Homo sapiens: one gene and its partners. The protein of the gene in region 1 interacts with the protein of each later gene in a pairwise test. Each region holds a gene or a part of one and is shown on either strand. Other genes may lie near its edges.

Region 1 (5,064 bases):
CAGCAGTGCGGGCCCTACTCCTGGCCTGACAGCTTGTTTTCTTGGCCATGTGGCCCTATGGCCTCTCACAGAGTTGCTCACAGTTCAGCTCGCATGGTTGAATTAGATGTGTGCCTGTCTCACTCTGCAGAGAACACCAGGATTTCCAGAAGCTTGGCCTCCTGACCCAGGATCCCCAAGCTGAGGCCAGCACAGGGGGCCCCAGCAGATGATTGTCACAGAGGCTGCGGGCAGTATCATGCAGGCACCCTGGGGTTCTGTCTTCTGAACTGACTGAGAACCTGGAGGAACTGCCATCATTGTATTCAGATGGGCGCGTGAGTCAGGGCCAGGACCAGGAGATGGTTGGGCCACCAACTGTCAGGCAGGCAGCAGGCTGAAAGGTCACCGTCCTCGAGCCAGGGAGAAGGTCAGAGTAGGCCCGCCCTCCGGTGGGGGGGAAGAGCAGGAACCCAGGTGCTGCAGGAGCAGCTTCAGCCCAAAGAGCAGCAGGCACAGCAGCCCTGCTGCAGGGACTCGGAGCCAGACAGGTCTGAGTGTGAGCCCCCCGAGTGCCCAGAGCTGCGAGTCCTTTAGGGTGGCAGGTGGAAGGCTCTGCTCCTCCCACTTGGGACAGGCTGTATGTCCAGGGTATGACACCGACCGGTCTGCAGAGGTTCTGAGACATGGGCCAGGATGGCCAAGAACTTGAACCAAGGGAGCACATGGTTTTTACTGATGGTCTGCTCAGAGCTGGCCCTAGGCAAGCATATTCACAGATTGGGTGCCATCATCTCCTTACTAATGGGAGATGAGGAAGCTGGGGTGCTGGCATGGTTTTGGCAAAGACACTCCCGAAATGAGAGTGAGGGTCACAGGTGAACGGGTTAACTTGGAGAAGACCCTTGGGCCAGGCGGCCATGGCCCAGGTGTCCCAGTTTATGCCATCTGGTGTAAGTACTATTATAATAATGCCTCCTTGCATATGCGTCCTGTTCGGAAAATTATGTCACCTAGTTATGGATGGTGAGTCTAGTGTTGTGTAGCATCTGAAAATCCTATTTATTTATGTTACTTAATGACAGGGTCTCGTTCTGTTGCACAGGCTGGAGTGCAGTGGCACGGTCACAGCTCACTGCAGCCTCAACGTGCCAAACTCAAGTGATCCTCCCACCTCAGCCTCCCAAATAGCTGGACTACAGGCATGTGCCACCACACCCAGCTGATTTTTTTGAAAACATTTTGTAGCGATGGGGGTCTCACTATTGTTATCTACGCTGGTCTCAAACTCCTGGGTCAAGCGAGCCTCCCACTTTGGCCTCCCACACTGCTGGGATTCAGGCGTGAGACACTGTATCCAGCCTGAAAGTCCTTTTTAGAAGGGAGAGATTTAAGCTGTTTTGACAAGAAGTAAACAAGACTCTGTTTCCCTTTAGTTTTGGATGCTGTCAGAGCACTTCGATTCCTTTGCAGTTTGTCTTCTTAGAAGTCTCTTGTGAGGGAGGCAATGAATCGTCACAAGCGTCTCCCAGGGCTGAGAGCTGTCCCACCTTTTAGTAGCCTTTTGTAGAACAAGGAGAGGTCTTCACTCAAAGTGAAAATGACAGACACCTCTTTGTGAGCCACCCTTACTCCCACAAAGAATGTTCCAGACTCCACACAGTTCTCTTCTGGAGCCTGGAGGTGCAAGCTGTCATCGTAGATAGAATCCTCTGAAAACAAACTTAATATCTTAAAATCGTAACATTTTTAACATTACATAATTGGAAGATCCGACACGGGAACATTTTTGCCCACAGGTTTGAGCAGAATCTCGTCTCGGCTCCCTTCCCCAGCCTGCCTTCTTCACGGGTCCGCTGGGCCATCGGTGTGGTGACGCTGCTTCCTGGTTTCTCGTGGCAGCAGAAGGGCCGATCACCACAGGCCCAGACAGAGAGCTCTGCAGTGTTCTATTCATAGAGGCAGACTCCTCATAGTTTTTAAGTTTCGTTCTTTTTCCATCTCAGGAGTTGAATTTGTTTGGACCTTCTTTGCAGAAAAGGAGACTGAACTTTTTAATCCCATGTCAGAGGAAGGTCTTGGGTGTACATTGCAGGGAGCAGAAATTGGGGCTTTAAAAAGGGGATCGTTCCCTGGTCATCGAGTTCAGGTGGGGGACCAGCCCCTCCACACTGTCCAAGCAGAGGCTAGACGCCATCCAACGTAATGTTCTAGAATATTCCTTGTCTTTTAAAGGCCCTCTCAACCAGGTGGTTGTGTGTGTTCTAGGCAAAAGAATGTGCATGGCTTTGAGTAAGACAGGATTTCAGATTTATTTTTACCAAGGCCACCCCCTTGCTACCGTGGCGGTCGTGCGTGAAACTGGTGGTGAGCAGTGGCGGGCCAGGCCACCTTTAGTTGTCCTGCTGTTCGCAAGGCCCCCATACGGGGATTAACTGAGCAGCCTGCCGGCTGACGCACATGTTGACTCGTGTAGCTGTTGATTTTAGCCAGCTGGCCTGGCGTCATACTACAGGGGCTTGCCCCAAACAAACCCTGGAGTAGGTTGGTTTTCATAAATGCCCTCTGGCTCTCTGGCAAGCGTTGGAAATGCCCTCAAACCCTGTAGTGCCTGGTCTTCCCTGGCCATCTCCTGGCAGTGTGAGCGCCTCTCTGCTCATGTAGAAGGTTGTTGACCCCAGAGAGAGCTAGGGGAGCTGTTAGCTGCTTTAATCGTTTATTTGCTTGTTATAAAACAGAGATTAAGTGGACTGTCACAAATATACATGAAGCAGCAGAGCTGTTCCCCCACGTGTAGACGTGCATGCACACACTCCTAAACACTTCCGTTTCTTCCATGAGCCTGTCCTTCTCATCTGTGGAAGGCTCAGTCTGTGTAGACATGCATGCACACACTCATAACACTTCCGTTTCCTCCATGAGCCTGCCCCTCTCCTCTCATCTGTGGAAGACTCAGTCTTCTGGTTGTTTCCAGGTGTCCTGGTCCTCCAGAGCTGATAGCCAGGCTGTTGGCAGGTGAGGGCCACATTCTGGTGTTGTCACCTAGTTGCCATTCACCTGGGATCCCTCCTTGGCCTTCTGGTGGGCCTGGTGGAGAGAACCTGCCCCAGGGGATTTGTGGGGTCTGGTGCTTCCCCGAGGCCCGGAGCTGATGGGGGGCTCCAGCCTGGATGTGTCATGTAGCCCCTCAGTGGGCCCTGGACATGCAGCCAGGCTTCCCTACCCCCATGTGGGGCCGCCCCCTAGGCGTCCACTTCCTGGTGTTGGTCCAGGCCCCTGGCACTTCTGAAGATGCACAGAACCTGCTTTGTATGCCACGCCATGCTGTGTGAGCACTGGCACCATGGCCACTTTGTCCCCCATCCCCTCCAGTCCCTCTGCCTGGCTGCCCTGTGTTCTGGCAGGGCTCAGGGCCTCTGAGTTCTGCACAGACCAGGAAGGCATGAGGGCTGGCCCTGGGTGGCAGCGCTGCTTCACCCCATCCTGAGGCTGCTCCCAGCATGCCTCCCTCAGCCCTCTGCTCCTCTTGGCTGTGGTGAAGGCCAAGAGCTCTTTCTGACCTTAGCGCTGCATGCAGAGCAGGGGAGCAGGACCCACAGGTCGGGGGAAGGCAGCCTTTGGCCTTGACTATGGGGAGGTAGGGGTGCGCTGGTGTGTATGTGTAGGTGCACACGTGTAGGGGTGGGTGTGCATGTGTGAGGGTGCACGTGTGGGGGTGGGTGTGCACGTGTGTGTAGGGGTGGGTTGCGTGTGTGTGAATGTGTATAGGGGTGGGTTGTGTGAATGTGTGTGTAGGGGTGGGTTGCGTGTGTGTGAATGTGTGTGTAGGGGTGGGTTTGAATGCAGGTAGGTTGCGTGTGTGTGTAGGGGTGGGTTGCGTGTGTGTGAATGTGTGTGTAGGGGTGGGTTGTTTGCGGGTAGGTTGCGTGTGTGTGAATGTGTGTGTAGGGGTGGGTTGTGTGAATGCGGGTAGGTTGCGTGTGTGTGTGTAGGGGTGGGTTGCGTGTGTGTGAATGTGTGTGTAGGGGTGGGTTGTTTGAATGCGGGTAGGTTGCGTGTGTGTGAATGTGTATAGGGGTGGGTTGTGTGAATGCGTGTGTGTAGGGGTGGGCTGCATGTGTGTGTGTAGGGGTGGGTTGTGTGTGTGTGTATGGGGTGGGTTTGTGTGAATGCGTGTGTGTAGGGGTGGGTTGCGTGTGTGTGTGTGCACGTGTGTGTACGGGCAGAAGGTGGCCTGGCAGCTGCTTCTCAGGGTCTCCGGCCATAGGGAGGGCAGCTCACCCGGCAGCCCCGTGCAGCTGAACGGTATTTTTGCTGGGAGAGTGGTGCTGGGCCCTCTGCCTGTGTCTGCACTGAACTCCCTTTCCCTAATGCTTGCTCTGCCACCCCTCCGGGGACTGCCTGCGGCTTCTCCTCCTCGTAAGGATCGCCATTTCCCTTCATGGAGGCTCAGGGAGGTGACATCCTTGCTGTAGTGCAGAGCTGGGTCACAAAACCAGCTCCCAGACAGGCATCTCAGGGCTCCGTCATCTCTTCATGTGGGTGACCCTGAGGGGAGGGAAGTGGGGAGCCCGTGGGTCCCTCCAGTGCTGGAGGTCTTGCAGGGAGAGAAGCACACATGCATCTAGTCACGCTGGTAGAAGGTGGGGAGCCAGGCACGGGGCAGAGGGGGGCTCCAGGCCCAGAAGAGGGAGGGCTCACAGGGACCGCGAGCATGGGGAGGGCCACCTGGAGAAGGGGGGAGGGAGGACCACTAGGATGGGGCTGGTGATGGGAAAACGCAAGGGTGCGGGTTCCTTTTGCCCAGAGGCAGGGTGGTCAGAGGGAGGCGTGAGATGGGAGCAGTGGGGGTCCTGTCCCAGCCTCGTTCCCACGTACCATCTTTCCCCCAGGTGGTCAAGTACCCCCTGCACGCCATCATGGAGATCAAGGAGTACCTGATTGACATGGCCTCCAGGGCAGGCATGCACTGGCTGTCCACCATCATCCCCACGCACCACATCAACGCGCTCATCTTCTTCTTCATCGTCAGCAACCTCACCATCGACTTCTTCGCCTTCTTCATCCCGCTGGTCATCTTCTACC
Region 2 (4,646 bases), on another chromosome or scaffold:
GTGATATGCCTGCCTTGGCCTCCGAAAGTGCTGGGATTATAGGCATGAGCCACCATGCCCGGCCTCAATTTAGATATTTCATAAACTAAGGCCTTATTAACAATTTCTGACAGAAGAAAAATGCAACCTTCCTTATCTATGTAATCTAAAAAGGAGAGAGGATAACAAATGAAGCCCAGAGATGTGGAAGATCATGCTCTCTGTTGATGCAATCACATTTGGAATTTAGTTCAATATATCAGTCAAATCCATTCTTATCTCCCTGCCACTACCAGGAAAAAACATCTAAACTCTGATAATTAAAAATAACATACTTACCATGAAAATTTTCCAAACACAGTAAATAGAGAAAAAGTAACCAAGAAAATTAAAATATTTCCCCTTGAAGGTTTTGGAGTATTCTATTCTCTCCTGGGGGAAAACAAACACAAAACATAGTTTTCAGCAAAATATAAATTTATATTCAACACAAGTATTCTTCCCTCTATGAATCACTGTTCAGGTTCAGTCAAAAAACCATACATTGCAATAATATTAAACTAATAACAGTAGTTGTGGCCAGCATTTACTGAATGCTTGCTTTTAGCTAGAGACTGGGATAAACATCTTACATGCATTATCCACTTAATCTTCATAACAACTCTTATGAGATACGTTCTATTATCTTAATTTTACAGATGAGAAAATTGAGGCTTTGAGAGGTTCGATAACTTGCTCAAAGTCACACAGCTGGTGAGTAGGCTCAGGTTTATCTGTTTCCAAAGCCTATGTTAACCTCTGTCCTATAAGGTTACTCCTGTAAAGTTATCCTCAAAAAGAATTAAAAGTTTGCAATCTTCACTAACAGATTTTGCACATTTAAATTATATTTTATTTTAGGTGTACATAGGAAAGTTACTTCTTACAGTTTCGACACTTATTGATCTGGATCCTTTAAAATAGGGCTAGGCCATCCATGGCAGATAGGTGTCTACTGCTCTTATAATATTACTAACTTATAAAGGAATAAAAAGTAGCTACCATCTTTATCCCAGGTTAGTAGGAGGTGGTACGTGCCACCTTCCTAAATGTTGAAAAGCCTCTTCTGACTATCCCACCAATTGCTACTTTTGAGAGTGTTCCATTAAGGATTTTGCTAGTGACAGGAGCAATTTCATGAAGAGTGAAGATCCCTTATCCCTAATGCTTCATGGCTGATATAGAAGCTGTGAGGTATCTCTTGCTTGGCCACAGAGAAATCTAAAAAGCCATTTAGTCTTGTTCTCTCTTTAATAATATTGGTAAAAACCACACTTCAGTTTCCTTGCTCTGTACCTTGGTAGCATATAGATCAGCTGTTTCCAGAAAAAGCTGCCTGCTTAATTCTTCCAAAGCATCCACTTCCTGTTGAATAAGAGTAAGATCTGGCACAGAATGGGCATCAAGGTTTTAATCACATAGGAATTTCAAGAAATGGCAATGAGAAAGCATATACTTTTAGTTTTTCCTACAGTGGATTCCCGGAGTTGCCTATATTCTCAATTTCCTGTTTCATAGCCAGCAACACTACTTCAGAGCAACTTTCCCAACCTCTGACGCAGGTGTGTAAAAGCTTCTCCATCAAGAGCATCGCCACCAAACAATTACCACTCAGTTTCTCTTAAGTCAAGCAGCTCAAACAGATAGTTTCATTTGTTTTTTGATTTATCTAGTTAGATTAAGTCAAATGTAATGTTCAAGATTGTAAATAGTTACAGAATAATAACTATAATAAAGCATAGCTTTCTCCTACATTATCTGAATATAATGTTAGAAAAGGGAACTAATACTTTACTGTGTTCTAATATAGGCTAGGATTTACAGACATTACCTTATTTCTTTTCAAACATTATCTTCTTTTATATCTTATCTTCATGGGATTGTCTTATGCCATGGTGTTATCCATTTTGCACATAAGGAAAGTGAAGCTCAGAGAGTTAAATAACTTGCTCAAAGTCACACAATTAATTGATAGAGATGCAAAGTCAAATCCTCTTTTCCTCCAAAGCCTGCTCTTTCCGTTACACTATGTTATTTTCCAAGAACTCAATCAGGTAGAGTTATTATTCTCCCATTTAGAGAACAGGGGCTCAGGGAGGTTAAATAGTCCTGATATGTTTGTTAACTCATCACTAACACAGCTCAAACCCATATTATTGGCTTTTATGAACTTTTAAGTAATAAACATAGTAAATATAGCCCCTTCTAAAATAGAAGCACATACTTCAATCTAAATCCTCCCTCCTCTCTGATTTTTCCCACTATTACCCAAATCAGTAAGTGCCCTTCAGTTCCTTCCTTAATAGTGGCTACTACTGGCATGGTTCAAGCCACCAAACAATATGGTTTAACTAGTTACATGTCTGTCTCTCCCATGATTAGAGGGTAAGCTCCTTGAGGAGAAAGGCTATACTCTACTCATCATTTTATTTCTTAGCACTCAGCCTGGAAATAGGAGATACAAAATAAATGTTTCTTGGTTAAATAAATCTAAATTAATCCTTTTTCTTTCTCTTCCACAATCATCTTGCCTTTCTTTGATCTTATTCTTATCTTCATTTGACACCAGGACATAAATCATAATTTGTAGCAAGAATAGACATCCTTCTCTAATTGAGGCAAAAGGGAATTTGTATTTCCCTGGGACAGAGAAGGAAACAGGAGTATGCTATCTCATGCTTAGTTCCCCAAAGTTTTGACCTAATAGCACCAGAGCCACACAGAAATTTGGTTACATAATTTGGGAAGTAGTTCAACATCATAACCAATCAGGAAAGAACAATTTATTAATCTATTAATCAAATCTCCTTTATCCTTTCTTTTTTATTTTGAGACAGGGTCTAGCTCTGTTGCCTAGGCAGGAGTGCAGTGGCGTGATCTGGGCTCACTCCTACCTCAGCCTCCCAAGTTCAAACAATCCTCCCACCTCAGCCTCCTGAGTAGTTGGGATTACAGGCACATGCCACTGGGCCTGGCTAATTTTTGTATTTTTTGTAGAGATGAGGTTTTGTCATGTTGCCGAGGCTTGTCTTGAACTCCTGGGTTCAAGTGATCTGCCCACCTCGGCCTTGCAAAGTGCTGGGATTACAGGGATGAGCCACTGCGCCCAGCCTCCCCTTGATTCTTTAAACCAAAATGTCACTGGAGAAGCAGAGCTACTTAAAATTTGTTTAGGAATACTAATTACTTTAGAAATGGGCCATTTATTTTAGGTAGCCATTATGCTTTATGGTGGTTTTTCAGAGTTGAGAAATGTAATAGTGTAGTGGAAAGAACTATGAAGAGGAGACCACAGTTATGTTTCTAGCTTTGCCACAAACCACCGTGTGACTTAACCTCTCTGGGTCTATTTTCTCATCTGTAAAATGGAAAGGCTGACTTTTTAGGACCACTTCAGCTCAAAGACAATGATTTTATGATATTGTGCAGGTGCTGGAAAGATGACTGTACACATGGTATTTCCTAAGCCTAGCTCTTAGGAGTTTGGACTCTGATGTAGTCAGGTACCTTAGAAGGGACTATCCCAACACTACTTTTTTTCTTTTGCTCTTGGTCCAGAGTTGAGAAAAAGAATCAAGCAGAGGGACAAAGGATACTTTCACTTCCTGATGCTGAAGTGGTAACACTTTTTATCATTCCCCAGAAACCTGATGGTTTGTTATGCACTTCCCCCTTCTGGAACATTGTTCTCCGTGCCATTGCCATCCTGAAATGAAAGAAAATATAAAGCCTCAGCAAGCAAGCATGGACCCTCACAGTCTAGTCCCATCCATTTTCCAGTCTCACAACTGCCTCTCATGTACTGAGCTGTTTATGTAAGGATACTGATTCTGGAGTCCTACTTTTCTACTACTTACAACTGAAGGGAAACTATGTGGAAGCAATGTGGCCTGGGTGAAGAAGCACAGAATTTGGGCTAGGCAATAAATTTGAGGACTGGCTCTGCTATTTGGAAGCTGGGAGGTCTTAGAGTTTTCATCTCCTCATATCTGGATGGTTGTGAAGATAAATGAAATAATACATATGAATTCATGTTGTCAACTACAAGGCGCTATACATAGTTTAATTACTACAGTTACCATTTAAAGACAAAATAAAACAGCTAACATACCTGGCTGGGTATGGTGGCTCACTCCTGTAATCCCAGCACTTTGGGAGGCCGAGGCAGGTGGATCACCTGAGGTTGGGAGTTCAAGACCAGCATGGGCAACATGGTGAAACCCCATCTCTACTAAAAATACAAAAATTAGCTGGGCGTGGTGACCCATGTCTGTAATCCCAGCTACTTGGGAGGCTGAGGCAGGAGAATCGCTTGAACCTAGGAGGCAGAGGTTGCAGTGAGCTGAGATCACGCCACTGCACGCCAGCCCAGGTGACAGAGTGAGACTCCATCTCAAAAACAAAACAAAAACAAACAAACAAAAAAAAACAGCTAACATACCTAACTAAAGGACCAAATACAGAGTTTGGAACGCAATACATGTTTTCTTCCTTCTTTTTCAAAGGCAGACAAAAGGAAAAAAAAATAGCAAAATTGCATAAACCTGTCCCCTTCTAAAATATCAGTCTCTAAGTCCAATACCCTCACCTTCTGTAATCTGTCCTACAGGTGAATAAGTCAACAGGAA
Region 3 (4,646 bases), on another chromosome or scaffold:
GAAACAACTCGATGGCCATCAACAGATGAATGGATCAACAAAATGTGGTATATAAATATAATGGAACATTATTCAGTCATAAAAAGGGAGGAAGTACTGACACATGCTCCAACATGGATGAACTCTGAAAACATGCTAAGGGAAAACATGCTAAGGAAAAGGCCACATATTACACGATCCATTTGTATGAAATGTCTCAAACACAAATCCACAGACAGAATCTGCTTTCTGTTGCCAGGGAGATGGGGAGTGACTGCTAATGGATAGGGGGTTTCTTGGGGGGTGATGAAAAACATTCTGGAACTAGATAGTGGCAGTGGCTGTACAACTTTGTGAATGTAAAAACTACTGAACTGTACACTTTAAAAGGATACATGCTATGGAATGTGAATTATACATATCAGTTTTTAAAAATTCACTCAAGGGGCTGGGCACGTGGTTCACGCCTGTAATCCCAGCACTTTGGGAGGCCAAGGCAGGTGGATCACCTGAGGTCAGGAGTTCGAGACTAGCCTGGCCAACATGGTGAAACCCCGTCTCTACTAAAAATATAAAAATTGGCCAGGTGTAATGGTGGGTGCCTGTAATCCCAGCTACTTGGGAGGCTGAGGCAGAAGAACTGTTTGAACCCAGGAGGCAGAGGTTGCAGTGAGCCAAGATCGCGCCACTGCTCTCCAGCCTGGGCACAAGGGCGAGACTCTGTCTCAAAAAAAAAAAAAAAAAAAAAATTCACTCAGGGTCATATTTGCTATCAACAGGTAGATGATGCTGGAATCTGACTTTAAGAAAATTATGGCATGTCCTGCACATGTATCCTGGAATTTAAAAAAAGTAAAATTAAAAAAAAAAAGAAAAAAAAATTATGGTAATATAATGAGAGTGGTGTCCTGACATGGCTTGAAATCTAGCTGAGGAAAATTCCAACAAGGACTTCTTGAAAGACTGAAGTCAGTGGGTGCACACACACACTCTGAAGGTGACTACTTTTTTAAAAGGACAACTCACTTTCAGAATAGAGGTTCTATAAGTACATTAAAATGATCATGACTGTTTGAAAACACCAAATTCTACCTCATCCATTCACTTCCTAAATATAATTTAGATCTTAATTTTGTTCATATGATCTTTACACCTCAAGACAACTACTTTTAAGACTGACATTACTCACAAAAACACTTCAAAATCCTGACCACGATCAAAATCAGATCCAAAGGCTGGGATATGAAATTATTTTAATTTCACTTTTAGGTTTCAAGTTTAAGCTTAAATAAACATCCCACAGTTTCATAATAAATACTTTACAACTCAATATTCAGAGGTCAAAATTTATATGGCACAGACCAGGCTGCCATTTTTAAAATAAGTGGTTTCTCTAAACTGTGGTTTAGCATGCAGAGGAGTTTTTGTTGCACATCAGTTATGAGTCAGAGTGAATAAAGAAGTTATAAACACACACACACACACACCCAGGAAAAGCATTCGAAGCACAAAAGTATCAGGAGACTGACTGGTTTTTAATTCACATATATCATCAAGAAAACTTGACCAGTGGTCTAACGGGGACAGGACTGGGAAAGGGAGTCTCAGATGAGAGACTGAGATAGGTGTCAGCCTCAGTTCCACCAATAACTAGTAGAGTAACCTTGGGGAAGTCATCTGACTCTCTGGAGGCCTGTTTTCTCATCAGTGAGGTGAAAAAAACTAGACTCCAAGGTTTCTAAGTGTTACAATTCTCAACAGTCTTTGATTCTATTGTTAAGTAGCATAAGGCTGTGGGAAGCCCAGGTATTACAACATGCAGTTCTCATATTTTTGTGCACCTAGGAAGCCATGCCACGTAGAGTAATAAGAGAACTCAGAATTAGCCACAGGGAAGAAGGAACAAGAAAAGTGTACACGGCTCCCGCTAGTACTGGTTTACTCCTGTTGGACCTAGTAAAGAGAAAGCACCTTTGACAATTTTCTAGAGAATGATAGGAGTGGTTCCTATGTCTCACCACACCCAACATAGTCAGTTTTTCCGAAACGAAATACAGTGGGGACTATACAAAATGTTGTGAAGCACCAAGCACTATTAGTCACTGCATGACTAATAGGACAGATCAATTTTAAATTAAAGAAACAAAAGAGATTTCTCTTTCTCATATAAAAAGAAAGAAACAGCTTTCATTCCAGTCAAGGAGTCCTAGATGACCACAGTGAATAATCTGTTACACGGATACTCAGTAATAAATATGGTGTCAATTCAAAGAAAATTAATTATCTACAGAACCAAAAGGTTCAAAAGCACTTAAGTTCAACGTAACGTTATTACTCAACATAGCCTTTTAATGTAATTCAGGTTGTAACTCCAACCTCTAGAGTTGACAGCAGTATTAAAGAGTCATTCAAAGTCATCACCTTAGCCAGACACTGTGGCTCACACCTGTAATCCTAGCACTTTGGGAGGCTGAGGCAGGTGGATGACATGAGGTCAGGAGTTCGACACCAGCCTAGGCAACGTGGCGAAACCTCATCTCTACTAAAAAAATACAAACAATTAGCCGGGTGAGGTGGCACATGCCTGTAGTCCCAGCTACTCGGAAGGCTGAGGCACAAGAATCGCTTGAAGCTGGGAGGCAGAGGTTGCAGCGAGCCAAAATCGTGCCACTGCACTCCAGCCTGGGTGGCAGAGCAAGACTCTATCTCAAAAAAAAAAAAAAGTCATCACCTTTTACGGTATCAACTAAATAGAAGTCACCATCATATGAACTGGTTCAGGACAGCCAAGGATCAAATGAGGCCAACTCATGAAGTTATTTCAGGTGGCTTCCAAGACTGCCGTCCGGAAGAGCTCCTCCACAACAGGACAGTCCTGGAGAACCTGTCCTTCACTGCCCCTATCCCCCACCATTTGCATATGTGCATGCTTGATCTTTGTCAAACATGGCTAACAACCACCTTTTGGTCACATCAGCTACCAGTATCTGACTGTGTCTGCTGGCATTCCCTTCAAGGGTACAGAGCTGGGGTTCTTGATCTGATTCCTATGCATGGACCTCCAGGTGGTATCAGAGGAGTCATGGAGTCAGCAAAGTTCCTAAGAGCCCATGCAAAATTTTATCTCTGTGCACAGGGTCCTGATCCTCAGGGGTTGTGAATCAAGGAAAGCTAAAAACCACTGGTTTAGTGCTACATACAAAACAGGAATCTACTGAAGGTGCCCGTGACACCTGTCATTTGAGGTGCAGAACAAAGGGTGCCATCTATTCAAAGCAAAAGTAAAATATGGGCTGGGCGCGGTGGTTCATGCCTGTAATCCCAGCAGTTTGGGAGGCCGAGGCTGGTGGATCACCTGGGGTTAGGAGTTCGAGTACAGCCTGGCCAACATGATGAAACCCCGTTTGTACTAAAAATACAAAAATTAGCCGGGCGTGATGGCGCGCGCCTGTAATCCCAGCTACTCAGGTGGCTGAGGCAGGGGAATCACTTAAACCCGGGAGGCGGAGGTTGCAGTGAGCCGAGATGGCGCCATTGCACTCCAGCCTGGGCAACAAGAGCGAAACTCCATACCCGCACCCCCCACCCACCAAAAAAAAAAAAGAAAAGAACAAAAGAAAATGTGATATGATGGTCAGAAGCTGTAGTCACTAAGGGTCAGATCGTCCATTCCCTTTATCCCCTAGTCCAGATAAACCAAAGGAGACTCAAGAGAGACTCTGCCCAAGACCACAAATCACAGAGCTACTAAGTGGCAAAGCTGAGCATCAAAGTTCACTGGATTTCCACCAGGATGTCAGGGCATGAAATTATGTTTATACTTTTTTAGAATGGGTTTGACCAAAATCCCCCCAATTCTTGTAAATATCCCACTCCATTAAGAAGGTAGCCTTCCAAAATTTTATTGTATTTTTTTTGAGACGGAGTCTTGCTCTGTTACCCAGGCTGGAGTGCAGTGGTGTGATCTCGGCTCACCGCAACCTCCATCTCCCAGGTTCAAGCAATTCTCCTGCCTCAGCCTCGCTAGTAGCTGGGACTACAGGCGTGTGCCACCACACCTGCCTAATTTTTGTATTTTTTAGTAGAGACGGGGTTTTGCCATGTTGGCCAGGCTGGTCTCGAACTCCTAACCTCAGGTGATCCGCCCACCTCCGCCTCCCAAAGTGCTGGGATTACAGGCGTGAGCCACCACGCCCGGTCTAGCCTTCCAAAATTTTAAAATCAAGCTTCCATATAGAATTTGATACATTTAAATACTCCCCAAATCATCAATCAAGTCACGGATCTTTCACAAAAGTCGCATACAGATTTTTTATTTTATTTTTTTTTTGAGACGGAGTCTCGCACTGTCGCCCAGTCTGGAGTGCAGTGGCACGATCTTGGCTCACTGAAGCCTCCACCTCCCTGGTTCAAGAGATTCTCCTGCCTCAGCCTGTTGAGTAGCTGGGACTATAGGCATGCGCCATCACGCCCGGCTAATTTTTGTATTTTTAGTAAAGACTGGGTTTCACCATATTGGTCAGTCTGGTCTTGAACTCTTGACCTCATGATCCACCCGCCTCAGCCTCCCAAAGTGCTGGGATTATAGGAGTGAGCCACCACGCGCAGCCCAGCATACAGATTTATGAGGTGAACCTTAGAGGCTCATTATCCCCTATCCTATGTTA
Region 4 (4,646 bases), on another chromosome or scaffold:
ATCTATTTAGCAGAGCTTTGGCATGTGAGGGTCTATAGATACTTCTTTAGACAGCTGAAGCCCACTAGGCATCAAAGCATTCTCTGGCAGCATTTTGGATGGAAATGTTTTTAGCAGATCCTCTGATGCCCTGTGACCCATCTGCTTGGGTCACTGTGATTTCAAACACAGCTGTGGGGACAGTGCAGCAAAAATGCATGCCCACCTTGTGGGTAGCAGACCCCCTGGCCCAGCACACACTGTCCATCTTTCTGCACCAAGGCTTTCTCTAACACTGAAGCAAGAGCCTACTCAGCCACGCAGGCACAGCACCCAGGGGCAACCTGCAACCGAGGCAAGGCAGGAGCCGGCAGATCCACAGGACAATTCTGGATGCTGTTCTGCAGGCTTCTTAGGAGGTGCTAGTGGAGTTCAGCCCCCTTTGCCCTCAAGTCAACTTCAATAATGTTAATATATCCTTAATGGCTTTCTTCCTGCTCTGTTTCATTCTTCCCACTCACCCTCCTGCTTCTTGTGGTCACCTCCAAAAAACCATACCTGTACCTAAATCCTTGTCTCAGGCTCTGCTCTGAGGAATACCCAAGATAAGTCTTTTAAAATGTATCACACACTACCTGCTTCCTGAAGCAGAAAATATGAAATAATGATTTTGCCTTTTTTGATGCTGCCATGTCTAAAAATCTGTGATTCAATAATTATAAATATCAGTGACTGTCTTTTGTTATGGCGTTTAGCAGTTACAAAGGAGTAAAGGGTATTGTGCCTGAGAAGGCTCTGCTTTTAAGGGTTGTCTTGCCATCTGTCACTTCTTGGGCACTTATTCCTCAACCCCTAGCCCTCTGATTTACAGCTTAGTCACTGCTCTGAGCCAGGAAATGGTATCCAAGTTTGCTAAAACTGTGTCTGGAACTAAAAGAGGATGAGCATGAGCTAAAGTACATGAGCTTAGGCTGGGTGTGGTGGCTCACCCCTGTAATCCCAGCACTTTGGGAGGCTGAGGCGGGCAGATCACCTGAAGCCAGAAGTTCAAGACCAGCCTGACCAACGTGGTGAAACCTTGTCTCTACTAAAAATACAGAAATTAGCCGGGTGTGGTGGCACATTCCTGTAATCTCAGCCATTTGGGAGGCTGAGGCAGGGGAATCACTTGAATCTGGGAGGCAGTGAGCTGAGATTGTGCGACTGCACTCCAGCCTGGGTGACAGAGTGAGACTCACTCTTTAAATAAATAAATAAATAAGTACATGAGCTTAAAGGGATAGTGGTGTAATGTAGAGTTTAAGCACATACAAGTTTTGAAGTTAGACATATCTGTATCAGATGCTGGCTTAACCGCTTATTAGCTAAGTCTGTTTCCTCATTTAAAAATCAAGTTATACACTTAAAATATATACAACAAAAATAAAATAGAGTAAAAAAACAAAAGTAACAAATTGGGATGTCATAAAAAAATGACAGAGCAGGGAACTCCAAAGGTCCATTCTGCCACTAAAGTGAGGAAAAAACTGGTAAAAATGTCAGAATCAACCTTTTTGGAACTCTGGAAACTAACCAAAGTTTGCAACAAACAGAGGAATGCTTAATTTAAAAAAGAAAAACAAAAACCAGGGCCAGGTGCAGTGGGTCATGCCTGTAATCCCAGCACTTTGGGAGACCAAGGCAGGAGGATCCCTCGAGCCCAGCAGTTTAAGACCAGCCTGGGCAACATGGTGAGACCCTGTCTAAAAACAAAACAAAACCAGCTGAATCTTGATAAGAGAACTTTCTGGTGTTGTAACCTACCCTGGTCCCATCACCCACTCTCCAGCTTGGTGGTGACCTTGAACAACAGTCCACACTCCCAGTACTGGTGTACAGAAACAGTACTGGATACCAGTACCTGACGGGGCAGGACGAACTTATTTTCAAAAAATTGTGGTTGTTTGTTTTGACCTGCCTGTCACCTCCCTGGAGGACCACCTCAAAGGGCCTGCTTTCATCTTAACTAACTAGGAACTATCCTAGTGCTGAGGGGGTTACATGAAGGATGTTTATCAAAAACATTTCGGCCGGGCGCGGTGGCTCACGCCTGTAATCCCAGCACTTTGGGAGGCCGAGGCGGGCGGATCACGAGGTCAGGAGATCGAGACCATCCCGGCTAAAACGGTGAAACCCCGTCTCTACTAAAAAATACAAAAAATTAGCCGGGCGTAGTGGCGGGCGCCTGTAGTCCCAGCTACTTGGGAGGCTGAGGCAGGAGAATGGCGTGAACCCAGGAGGCGGAGCTTGCAGTGAGCCGAGATCCCGCCACTGCACTCCAGCCTGGGCGACAGAGCGAGACTCCGTCTCAAAAAAAAAAAAAAAAACATTTCAAGGTAAAATGTATTAGTCTGTGCTGTCTAGGGCAAAGGATAACAGCTGGGGCATCCAACACACTAACCAAAAAGACTGGGAGGAAAAGCTGGGAAATGAGAAGCTCTGGGAAATAAGAGCTTTGAATAGCTCTGACAAGTTCCTGGAATTTAGAAGGCCACAGGCATGTCTAAGGCTGGGCACATGCTCAGAAAAGGCCACATGTGGCTCACCTTCAGGCTCTAGTCATGCAGGAAGTGAAGGCTAAGGCAGAGTTGTAACCACCTGACCATGTTGAAGACATGCTCCAATATACATTCTAGCTCCTGAACCAACCTCCCCCTACCCCTCTTACCTGTGCCTGTGATAAGTGTAACAAAGTTTTCCAGTCCCTTTCCTTGGCCAAATTTCCTTTCCGCCAGGGCAGCACAGTTGCCATCATTGTCTACCCACACAGGGAGATGCAAAGTGTCAGAAAGGGGGGTCCTAAGGTCCACAGAGTTCCACTCTTGGATCAGTTTGGTTGAATGCAGCACAATTCCTTCCCGAGGATTTACACGGCCACCTGTGGAAATGCCTGCGCTCCACCACAAACACAAGGAAATAATGCTGATGAGCAATCTCAGGAAAGTATGCTGACTTTCTTGTCTTAAGAACACAGATTCATTCACCCCAGATCTCCTAAGACAAACGTTACCAAGGACTGCAAGGAAATATTAGACAGTTGTGAATTAAAGCCATAGCACCTTAAAGATTTCTAGAACTGTCAGTGCTTCTCTCCTAATGCTTGTTGGTGTCCCAGGAAGTCCCCATGCTTGGGGCCCACAGACAGCACCTAGAGCCATCTATGCACAGGGCAGACACTGACTTGATGCTCAGGCATGCATCACAAGTTAGTAAATTTTGTACATTAAAATGAGCATTTCTTGGATTTATAATTTACAATCTTACCTACTCCCAAAATTCTGCAGTTCAGTTTTACAGCTTCTGCTGCAGCTTCCACACACATCTGTAGGATTAAATTAATCCTCTCTTCATAGGTTTTAGGATTGAACTGAGTATACTTCTTAACTATTTCACCCTAAAAGAGAAAACAACAAGTTCCGTCTTACTGGTCTTAGCTAAGCAGCATATTGTGAGTGTTGTGATCTTTTTCATGACAAATTAGACACTGCTATAGGATGGCCCCGCAGTCTTAGATGACTGCTTGGGGAAGGACCCACTGCCTGGTCTGGGCCAGCCCTGGGGTAAGCTCAAGTAGTTCCTGTAATCTGTCCTAATATGGGGCTGTTGAAGCAATGACAACTCCACAGGCAGCAAGATGGGCCCCTCTCTTTTTTTTTTTTTTGAGATGGCCTCTCGCTCTGTTGCCCAGGCTGGAGCGCTATGGCGCGATCTCAGCTCACTGCAACCTCCACCTCCCAGGTTCAGGCGATTCTCCTTCCTCAGCTTCCCAGGTAGCTGGGATTACAGGTGCCTGCCACCACGCCCGGCTAATTTTTGTATTTTTAGTAGAGATGGGGTTTCACCATGCTGCCCAGGCTGGTCTCAAACTCCTGACCTCAAGCAATCCGCCTGCCTCGGCCTCCCAAAGTGCTGGGATTACAGGCGTGAGCCACTGCCCCCGGCCGGGCCCCTTTCTTAAGCTTAAGTTCAATGTTCGCTAATTTGAGCCTAGTTCATTAAAAGACCATAGTTTACTCTTTCAGGTTGACAAAACTTTCTTGCTTACTGAGGTGACCGGGCATAGTGGCTCACGCCTGTAATCCCGGCACTTTGGGAGGCCAAGGCGGGAGAATCGCTTGGGCCCAGGAGTTTAAAACCAGCCTGGGAGGTACAGTGAGACCTCCTCTCTACAAAAAATTAGCCAGGCATGTTGGCACATGCCTGTAGTCCCAACTACTTGGGAGGCTAAGCTGGGAGGATTTCTTGAGCCTGGGAAGTTCAGGCTGCGGTGAGCTGAGATCACGCCACTGCACTCCAGCCTGGGCAACAGAGTGAGACCCTTTCTCAAAAACAAAAACAAAAAAACACTGAGGCAACTAAGTAGCTGAGCTTTAATCATCTCCTGTAACTGAATTCAGTGATGGTCTGGATACTCTATTTCCTTAGGGTAAATTTCCATCCTGGCTGGCAGAAATACCACATTGTTTAAATTATTATATGGCCGGCCGTGGTGGCTCACGCCTGTAATCCCAGCACTTTGAGAGGCCGAGGCAGGTAGATCACTTTGACCTCAGGAGTTCAAGACCAGCCTGCGCAATAAGAGGAAATCCCATCTCTATAAAAAATACAAAAATTAGCTGGGCGTGGTG

The links. The genes of interacting proteins can lie anywhere in the genome.
Region 2: the proteins of WFS1 (region 1) and GPR89B interact in binary tests that used the Homo sapiens proteins (3 or more experiments, as listed by UniProt).
Region 3: the proteins of WFS1 (region 1) and PPTC7 interact in binary tests that used the Homo sapiens proteins (3 or more experiments, as listed by UniProt).
Region 4: the proteins of WFS1 (region 1) and GNE interact in binary tests that used the Homo sapiens proteins (3 or more experiments, as listed by UniProt).

Annotation. Positions count from the first base shown.
Region 1 is NC_000004.12:6,295,786-6,300,849, forward strand, and holds part of WFS1 (wolframin), read left to right. Parts: intron 1-4,871; coding exon 4,872-5,064. UniProt on the Homo sapiens protein: Participates in the regulation of cellular Ca(2+) homeostasis, at least partly, by modulating the filling state of the endoplasmic reticulum Ca(2+) store.
Region 2 is NC_000001.11:147,965,632-147,970,277, reverse strand, and holds part of GPR89B (Golgi pH regulator B), read right to left. Parts: intron 3,725-4,646; coding exon 3,615-3,724; intron 1,947-3,614; coding exon of another isoform or gene 1,891-1,946; exon of another isoform or gene 1,404-1,890; coding exon 1,315-1,403; intron 412-1,314; coding exon 319-411; intron 1-318. UniProt on the Homo sapiens protein: Voltage-gated channel that enables the transfer of anions such as iodide, chloride, bromide and fluoride which may function in counter-ion conductance and participates in Golgi acidification.
Region 3 is NC_000012.12:110,576,461-110,581,106, forward strand, and holds part of PPTC7 (protein phosphatase PTC7 homolog), read right to left. Parts: intron 1-4,646. UniProt on the Homo sapiens protein: Protein phosphatase that plays an essential role in mitochondrial metabolism and biogenesis. Positively regulates biosynthesis of the ubiquinone, coenzyme Q. Dephosphorylates the ubiquinone biosynthesis protein COQ7 which is likely to lead to its activation.
Region 4 is NC_000009.12:36,220,091-36,224,736, forward strand, and holds part of GNE (bifunctional UDP-N-acetylglucosamine 2-epimerase/N-acetylmannosamine kinase), read right to left. Parts: intron 3,413-4,646; coding exon 3,283-3,412; intron 2,909-3,282; coding exon 2,687-2,908; intron 1-2,686. UniProt on the Homo sapiens protein: Bifunctional enzyme that possesses both UDP-N-acetylglucosamine 2-epimerase and N-acetylmannosamine kinase activities, and serves as the initiator of the biosynthetic pathway leading to the production of N-acetylneuraminic acid (NeuAc), a critical precursor in the synthesis of sialic acids.